Linked DNA regions of Homo sapiens: all the other regions are linked to region 1. The links come from fine-mapping of genetic effects on gene expression. A gene starts in region 1. Each other region holds a variant in brackets. All regions are shown on one strand. Distances are from middle to middle. Region 1 holds the start of TRIM6 (tripartite motif containing 6). Region 2 has its middle 16 kb from the start of OR52B6. Region 3 overlaps TRIM6-TRIM34 (TRIM6-TRIM34 readthrough).

Region 1 (2,766 bases):
CACCCCAGTCCCTTCTCTCTCTATACCTCCCTCCCCAAGCCACCTTCTAAGGCAAGGTGATACTCACCTAATCAGTCTCCTTAGGGAGGAACTTTGACATTCTTTTTCTTCTCAGAGTTTCTGTGCTATTGAAACCCTGTAGTTAGAGTTCTGAGGCTCAATAAGCTTTACATGTATTCATCAGACCTAAATAAAAACAAAGATTGTCTTCTAGTTATATAGGTCAAAATTACAGATACACACACACAGCTTTATACATACATACGTGTAATTTTAAACTGATGAATTTTAATGATCGTTTGGCAAAACATGCCATTATGCAAAGGGGCTTTTACTCGTATAACTTTATATGTTTATTTAGACATTTTAATTAATACGTCTATATGGAGTACAGGTGTATTATCAGTGTAATTAAACTCTGATATGATATTAGAAAGCTACAGTACACTGCAGACAATTTACAAGGGTCATCTCTGGCCTGGTGTTCTCAAAGGCCTCCGGATTTGCCGTTCATCAGGTAAGATGAACAGCTTTGCGTTGCTACCTTCAAAAATTCTTTTTTTTTTTTTTTGAGAGAGAGTCTCGCTCTGTCTCCAGGCTGGAGTGCAACCTCCACCTCCCGGGTTCAAGCGATTCTCCTGCCTCAGCCTCCCGAGTAGCTAGGACCACAGGCGCGCCCAGCTAATTTCTGTATTTTTAGTAGAGACAGGGTTTCATCATGTTGGCCGGGATGGTCTCAATCTCCTGACCTCGTTATCCGCCCGCCTCGGCCTCCCAAAGTGCTGGGATTACAGGGGTGAACCACCGCGCCTGGCCTCAGAAACCATCTCCATCTCCCTTACCACCTGAGGGGTCACTGGTGACCACACCCATGGAATCGGCTGGATCTCCTGCGGGGCTGGACAATTTGACCCTCCTCCTCCCCAGGCCCCGCCCCTTCCCCCCTGAGTCTTTCGGCCTGGGTGGAGGACGCGGCTGCTTCAAGTCCTTGGCTCTGATCCAGGCCACAGATTCCAGGTTAGTGAGCAAGTTTATTTTCTGGCCAGCTACCGCTGTCCCCACTTGTCTGGAGAGTTTGACCCGCTCTGCAGGTCGGGTTGGGGGTGGTTCACGGGTGAAAGAAGAATGAGGGAGACTTCTGCATTTTCAAGTGAACTCAAGTTTGGGAAGGGAGCACAGAAGAGGCACCTTTGCAGCTGGGAATAGGCCGTGTAAAGAGAGTTAAACCTCTATTCTACAAGCTGAAGTATGTAGAGGAGGCAGCTCTGGAAACTGCTTTAGGGAATCACTGCAAACCATTTTGTCAGGCGTGGATTCAGAGTCAGCATCCCTTCCCCCCTTCCCCCGTTCTCCCCTTCCCCCCTTCCCCCTTCCCCCTTCCCCCTTCCCCCTTCCCCTCCCCCATCTCCAGCCTGGCCGCTCCAGGAAGTGAGCACCGTTTATCCCCCACCCCAGGCGGCCCGACTCCTCCCAGAAGGAGTTGGGAGATGAGCCTTCCGCAAACTCCTGACCTGTGGGTCCGTCCGTTCAACGGCCAAAGGCTGGCGGAGGAGGGATCCCCTGCCTTTCTCGGAACGGAACGGAGCAGAGTCGTGCGTGGTTGAGTTTAGATAAAAGCCGAGTGAGCGCGCTCTGTTCCTTAAGATTAGTTTAAGGTGCCTTGGATTGCTCTGAAGAGCTTTGACCACCTGATATTGCTTACATCTGGAACTTCTTGGCTTCTCATTCCCCAGATGTGCGGGTCAGAGAGGTATGTCTACCGTTCTGTTGACTGGCTCTTATTGTCACTTCTGGCAGAGGTGACAGGGCAGTGAAAGAGATAAGGTCCTTTCCCTTTCGGAACTCATTATATCTTTATTTCTTTTTCTTTCTCACTGCAAATGACCCCACTGAGGTTAGAGACATTTTAATCAGTCAGTCAATAGAGACAGAAATGTGTGGTTAGGAGCATAGATGCCGCAGCCAGACTGCATGTGTTCAAATCCTGACTCTGACAGACACTGGCTGTGTGCCCGAAGACTGTTAACTTGACTTCTTTGAGCTTTAGTTTCTTCCATCTATAAGATGGACGGAGTAATATGTATATCTTAGAGTTTTGGTGAGGATTGAGTGAGACAGATTTAAACACGTAGGAGGCTGCCTGACACAAATTATGGTCATTATTACTGGCAAACTCCATGCCTAGCTTTAAAAAAATGCACAATCAAAACAATTTTTAAATTATAGGTTTCTGAAATGCAGGGGGTAGAAATTCTTTTGAAGTGGAAATTAAATTTTTTGTTTTGAAACTGATTATGTTCCAATTCAAATATTTATTGAGTCCTGTTAGATAATCAATTGCAGATAATAGGTTAAATATAACCCTACACAAAGATAAAAAAAAATGTTATTCCTAAAGTGCAAGAACTCATGCCCAACTCACTTATAAATGCAACTGCCACCTATTTTATTCCACTTTCACTAGGGCTCCCAGCTGGTGGACGGGCCCGCTCTGTCATTCCTAACTCTGAACCCCCAGCCTACACCAGCCCCAGTATCCCCTGCTGAGTCACTGATTTTTATTCTGAAAGCCATTTTGATATCGATGCAAGCTTCCATTCTAAAAGATGCTTCGTATCTAAATAGCAGGCCATTCTCTGTCCCCCTCCCTCTTCTAGCTGTTTTGCACCCTAAATTGTATCCACCTGGGAAAGAAGGTCCTTTATCTAAGGCAGTGCTTCTGAAGCCTTAATGTGCGTAAGAATCACCTAGAGAACTTTAATATTA
Region 2 (2,766 bases), 32 kb before region 1:
AAGTGTGGAGACATTTCGGGGTTGTGAAGCTTGTGAGAAAGGTCTTATTTTTTTCTGGAAAATTTATACCCTGGTAATATCTAAGGAAACATTCTGGGAAGGAGGGAGGTATGTGTATGGGGGTGGGTCTAGGGAATAGTCTCTCTGGCTTTCGTGAGCAAAGAAAATATATATTTCTTCATTCTTTGCTTATGATGCGCATATAGCATGCCATAGGACATTTGACCTGGCCTTCATTGCATTGTCTCAGGAGCAAGAATCAGCTGTGGGGGACCACACAGTTATTATTGTCTTTATAATTGAATAATAACAGTGTATCTTGTCCAGAATAATTTGTGTGTTCCTTCAAGATGAAATTGATAAAATGAATCTTCAAAACACAATATAATTCAGTGCAAACTTCTAATGTAAATGATCTTCAACTTTCACATAATTCAACCCTGTATATTTTGAGTGACCATTGTCCCTATGCTAATTCCTGAATCTTCTTCCCACTCTCCTTTCTTCTTCACTCCCTATAGTAATACAAAGCTATATACTTAAAAAGTTATATCTAAATCACAATAAAATAATGTGTTATCAAACTACTCTCAAAAATACGATCAAGTTTAGGAATATGAAAGGTCGTTGGGGTAAAACTAACCAAGGGGACATAAAAATCAGAGTTCAAAAGAAAAGAGCCAGTGAAGCGGTTGAAGCTCAAGTGCAGCCTTATAAGGCCTGCAGTCGTGGCCTGAGCCACACTCAGGCTTGTGAATTGGGCTTCAAGAGGACTATGGCCAGTGGTAAGCTGATGAATGCTTAACAGCCAATTCTTGGGGCTTGATTGTAGAGCAGCTGATTGAGAAAATGTAGATATTTCCACTATAGCTGACTTCAAGCTACCAATTTGATGTTGACCTGCTTGCAAAAGTCCTGAAAGTTAACATGTGGCTCTCATGAGCCAGTGGGAGCAGCCTCTAGCACATGACTCTTGTGACTCTAGTTAGACCTGACACACTGGGATTAGAATGATGTAACTCAAAAAGGATGTGATAATGAAGTCTCTGGGCTACAGAAATCCTGACTCATTCTGAGGTAGAATAGTGAGTAGGTAAGAACAAAAATTTTGGAATGAAATTGACTTATTTTCTATATATCATCATATATTTCTTGCATGATAATGAGCATATTGTTTAACTTTTATTAAGGTAAGATTCACATGACATAAAATTCTCCACTTTAAAGTATGTAATTTAGTAGCTTTTAGTACATTTCTAATGTTGTGTAACCATCACCAAAGTCTAATTTCAGGCCTTTTTATCACCCCAAAAAGAAAACCCATATTCACTAACTAGTCACTCTCCACTTCCTTT[T/C]CCTGCATTAACGTACTTCCTGTCTCTACAAATGTATCTCTTCTAGACATTTAATGTAAATGAAATTATGCAACATGTCAGCCATTTCTGTCTGATTCCTTTCACTTAACATATTTTCAAGATTCATTCATATTTCAGCATGTATTGAAACTTTATTCCTTTTTGTGGCTGAATATATTTTATTGTATAATTATACCACATTCATCAGTTGATATATATTTTACTTATTTTTACTTCTATTTTTGCTACTATGAATAATGGTCTTATAAGCAACCATTTACAAGTTTTTATGTGAACACCTGTTTCAGTTCTCTTGGGTATATACCTAGGAGTAGAATTGCTAGGTCAAATGGTATTTCTACATTTAACTTTTTGAGGAACACCCAAACTGTTTTCCATAGAGGCTGCACCATTTTACATTCCCACTACCAATGTATCAGGGTTCTAATTTCTCCTCATCCTCACTTGTTATTTTCCTTTTCATATATATATGAAATATATATATATGAAACATATCTATGAAATATATATATATATCACTGTCCTAGTGGATGTGAAGTAGGACAAAGTATTTTATGGAAAAAGATTACAAAATCATTTCCTCTTCTCCTCCTTGTTACCCAAGTTCAAGCTAAGCTTCATTTTCCAGAGGGAATAGCATGTATAAAGGTCCAAGTGGAAAGAAAACATACTTTGTTTGAAAAACTAAAAGAAATATGGTATGATTGTAACATAAGGGCATGTAAGAGTAAGAGAAAAGAAGGAGGTTGGGGCTAGTGGACACCAGACAATGACTGGTTGGCATCGAAATACTATAAAAGGCTTTGAAAACATACACGTTAGGAAATTTGGATTGTATTCAAAGCAAATAGATCTACTGTTGAATGATTTAAAGTAGAAGAGTGAGTCGATCTAGGTTTGAGTTTAGTAAGACCATGATATTTTCTGAGTAGCAAGTGGATGGGAGAGAAAAAAAGACTGGAGGTAGCAAATTCCTAAATTAGGGTATGGAAAACTTGGGAGAGAGAGACAATAGTGATCATATTTTAATGTGAAGTGTGTGGATAAATTCAAAGCATATTTAGAAAACATAATAAATAATAAACATATTTTTAAATAATTAAATAATTAAAATAAATAAGAAAAATAGACTTTGACATGGAAAACTAGTTAAATTTTATACTGTTTAGTAAGAGAGAATTCAAGATGATTTGTGGATCATGAAGCAAATAAGGAGAGAAAATGGTAATTTTTATTTGAACATGTTGATTTTGAAGTTTCAGTGGGAAATATAAGAGTAGACATCAAATAGGAAGTTGGCTATAGGGTCATATAAGGAATTTGATGTACAGCTTTAGACTTGGTAATTTTCAGCATAAATATGCTTACTGAATTTATGAGCTTGCTACAT
Region 3 (2,766 bases), 26 kb after region 1:
GCACTCTCTTAAATTCCAGGTAACTCTTTTGGGATATTTATGACTTTCATTTTCAGGGCTTTGGGACCTGGGAGAATGGTGTGAGTAAAGCCAGAGGGATCTGAGAAGACAGATACTTTACTCCTGCACTGGTGTCTCTAGATAATTTCCCAGCTGGCTCTCTCTGCCTGTGTAAACAAGCCTTGAGGATATGACCCTTGCCAACTCTTGTTAGCCACTCCTGTTTACATAGAGCTCTAAGTACATGCCCATGGAAATAGCTGCATATTCTTGAATGACTAAACTTGCTCATTTTTCTGTCCAGGTCATTTCTGCTATCCAGAAGCACAGCTCAGCTGAGAGTGAGGCACCAGAAGAATGCCTAAGAGTTTCCAAAAGTGATGATTTTTCTACCATTAATATATTATATGTTGGTAGTATGAAAGGAAAATAAATCTTGGAGCTTCAAAATCACTAGGCCAAATAGAAAAGTCAAGCTGGGAACTGCTTAGGGCAAACCTGCCTCCCATTCTATTCAAAGTCATCCCTCTGCTCACTGACATAAATGCCTATCTGATTGACTCCTTTGAAAAGGCTAATCAGAAACTCAAAAGAATGCAACAGGTTGTCCTTCACCAACCTGTGACCTGGAAGCCCCCTCCCTGCTTGAGTTGTCCTGCCTTTTCAGATGGAACCAATGTACATCTCACATTTATTGATTGATGTCTCATGTCTCTCTAAAATGTATACAACCAAGTTGTGCTCTGATCACCTTGGGCACATGTTGTCAGGACCTCCTGAGGCTGTCAGGGACACATGTCTTCAGCCTTGGTAAAATAAACTTTCTATATTATCTGAGATCTGTCTCAGATTTTCGGGGTTCAGACTAGACAGTTGTTAAGAAAATAACAAAAAGACATTAAAGACATAGCATAGTTGCATGTCCATTGAACTCAGAGAAATGAGTTTTTTAAAAAGGAAAAAACTCAGCTGGGCGCGGTGGCTCACACCTGTAATCCCAGGACTTCGGGAGGCCGAGGCAAGCAGATCATGAGGTCAAGAGTTTGAGACCATCCTGGCCAACATGGTGAAACCCTGCCTCTATTAAAAATACAAAAAATTAGCCGGGCGTTGTGGCAGGTGCCTGTAGTCCCGGCTACTTGGGAGGCTGAGGAAGGAGAATGGCGTGAACCCGGCAGGCGGAGCTTGTAGTGAGCCGAGATCACGCCACTGCACTCCAGCCTGGGCGACAGAGCGAGACTACCTCTCAAAAAAAAAAAAAAGAAAAAAAGAAAAATTAGCTGGACGTGGTGGCGCATGCCTGTAATCCCAGCTACTCAGGAGGCTGAGGTAGGAGAATCGAACCTGGGAGGCGGAGGTTGCGGTGAGCCAAGATCATGCCATTGCACTCCAGTCTGGGCGACAAGAACGAAACTCCATCTCAAAAAAACAAACAAACAAATAAAAAAAACCGGAAAAAACTCAAGTGAACAAAATGAATGATGAAAAATTGAATGTCATCCACACAGAACTGATGGGCTAAGGTAATATACACATCTCAACACATGCTTTAACAAATCTGTCTGATGCTTTACTATTGTAAATGAAAGAGTATCTGAGAAAACTCTCAATCAATTTAGGAAGTTTATTTTGCCAAGGTTAAGGATGCACCCATGACAGCCTCAGGAGGTCCTGA[C/T]AACATGTACCCAAGGTGGTCAGGGCACAGCTTGGTTTTATACATTTGAGGGAGATGTGAGACATCAATCAATATATGTCCGCAAAGGCGGGACAGCTGAGTCCGGAAGGGGGTTTCCAGGTCATAGGTAGATAAAAGACAAACAGGTTGCATTAAGCAATAGGGCAAAGGAAGTAACCAGATATTCATTTATCTCACCTGAGCAAAGGGGTGACTTTGAGTTCTGTCTGGAGCTTTTTTTTTTTTTTTTTTTTTATCTTAGTAGCTGTCTTTTTTTGGAATAGAATGGGAGCCAGGTTTGCCCTAACCAGTTCTCAACCTGACTTTTCCCTTTGGCTTAGTGATTTTTGGGTCCCGAGATTTTCTTCCCTTTTACACTATCTAAATGTATTAGTTACCAATATTGAAATAAGGAAAAGAAATCTGAAAGTATTAGGTTGGTACAAAAGTAATTGCGGTTCTTGCTATTATAATACTTTTATTTATTTTGTTTATTTTTATTTTTTTATTTTTTGAGACAGAGTCTTGCTCTGACACCCAGGCTGGAGTGCAGTGGTGCGATCTCGGCTCACTGCAACCTCCGCCTCCCGGGTTCAAGCAATTCTCCTGCCTCAGCCTCCTGAGTAGCTGGGATTACAGGCGCATGCCACCATGCCCGGCTAATTTTTTTTTTTTTTTTTTGTAATTTTAGTAGAGACGGGGGTTTCACCATGTTAGCCAGGGTGGTCTCGAACTCCTGACCTTGTGATCCGCCCGCCTCAACCTCCCAAAGTTCTGGGATTACAGGTGTGAGCCACCACAGTTGGCTTTATAATACTTTTAATTTCAAAAGCCGCAATTACTTTTGCACTAACCTGATAGTAATTGACTCCCTTAAAAGTAGTCAAAGCATATTCCCAAGGTATTGGATGTGGATACATTTTTGTGGGAAAGTTGTTAAACTTCCAACAAGTTTATAATTGTCCTTGATCACCATGCATGAGTCAGATGGAGAGGGCAAAAATGAAAATTGTACCTTGTCAGGTGGTTTCCAAAGGTGGCACCTTTTATTATGTAATGTGCTCTACAGGAGGTAGACTAGGATTGTTTTG

Evidence for each region. PIP is the estimated chance that this variant, and not a neighbour inherited with it, causes the effect.
Region 2: its variant is fine-mapped to the expression of TRIM6 in whole blood (TOPMed, PIP above 0.99).
Region 3: its variant is fine-mapped to the expression of TRIM6 in whole blood (INTERVAL, PIP above 0.99).

What each region holds. Positions count from the first base shown.
Region 1 is chr11:5,595,165-5,597,930 of GRCh38, forward strand. It overlaps TRIM6 (tripartite motif containing 6), which reads left to right and starts at 1,473. Exons shown (of 8, transcript NM_001003818.3): 1 at 1,473-1,750. The coding sequence starts at 1,734. It overlaps TRIM6-TRIM34 (TRIM6-TRIM34 readthrough), which reads left to right and starts at 1,473. Exons shown (of 14, transcript NM_001003819.4): 1 at 1,473-1,750. The coding sequence starts at 1,734. It also overlaps a transcript of TRIM5 not described here. RefSeq lists enhancers at 795-1,089, 1,244-2,161, 1,408-1,457.
Region 2 is chr11:5,563,496-5,566,261 of GRCh38, forward strand. No RefSeq gene overlaps it. Among named protein-coding and RNA genes, the nearest start is that of OR52B6, 16 kb to the right of the region's middle. The variant T/C (reference allele first, on the strand shown) is at 1,356.
Region 3 is chr11:5,621,197-5,623,962 of GRCh38, forward strand. All of the region lies in intron 7 of TRIM6-TRIM34 (TRIM6-TRIM34 readthrough), which reads left to right. It also overlaps a transcript of TRIM5 not described here and a transcript of TRIM34 not described here. Among named protein-coding and RNA genes, the nearest start is that of TRIM34, 2.4 kb to the right of the region's middle. RefSeq lists an enhancer at 237-845. The variant C/T (reference allele first, on the strand shown) is at 1,676.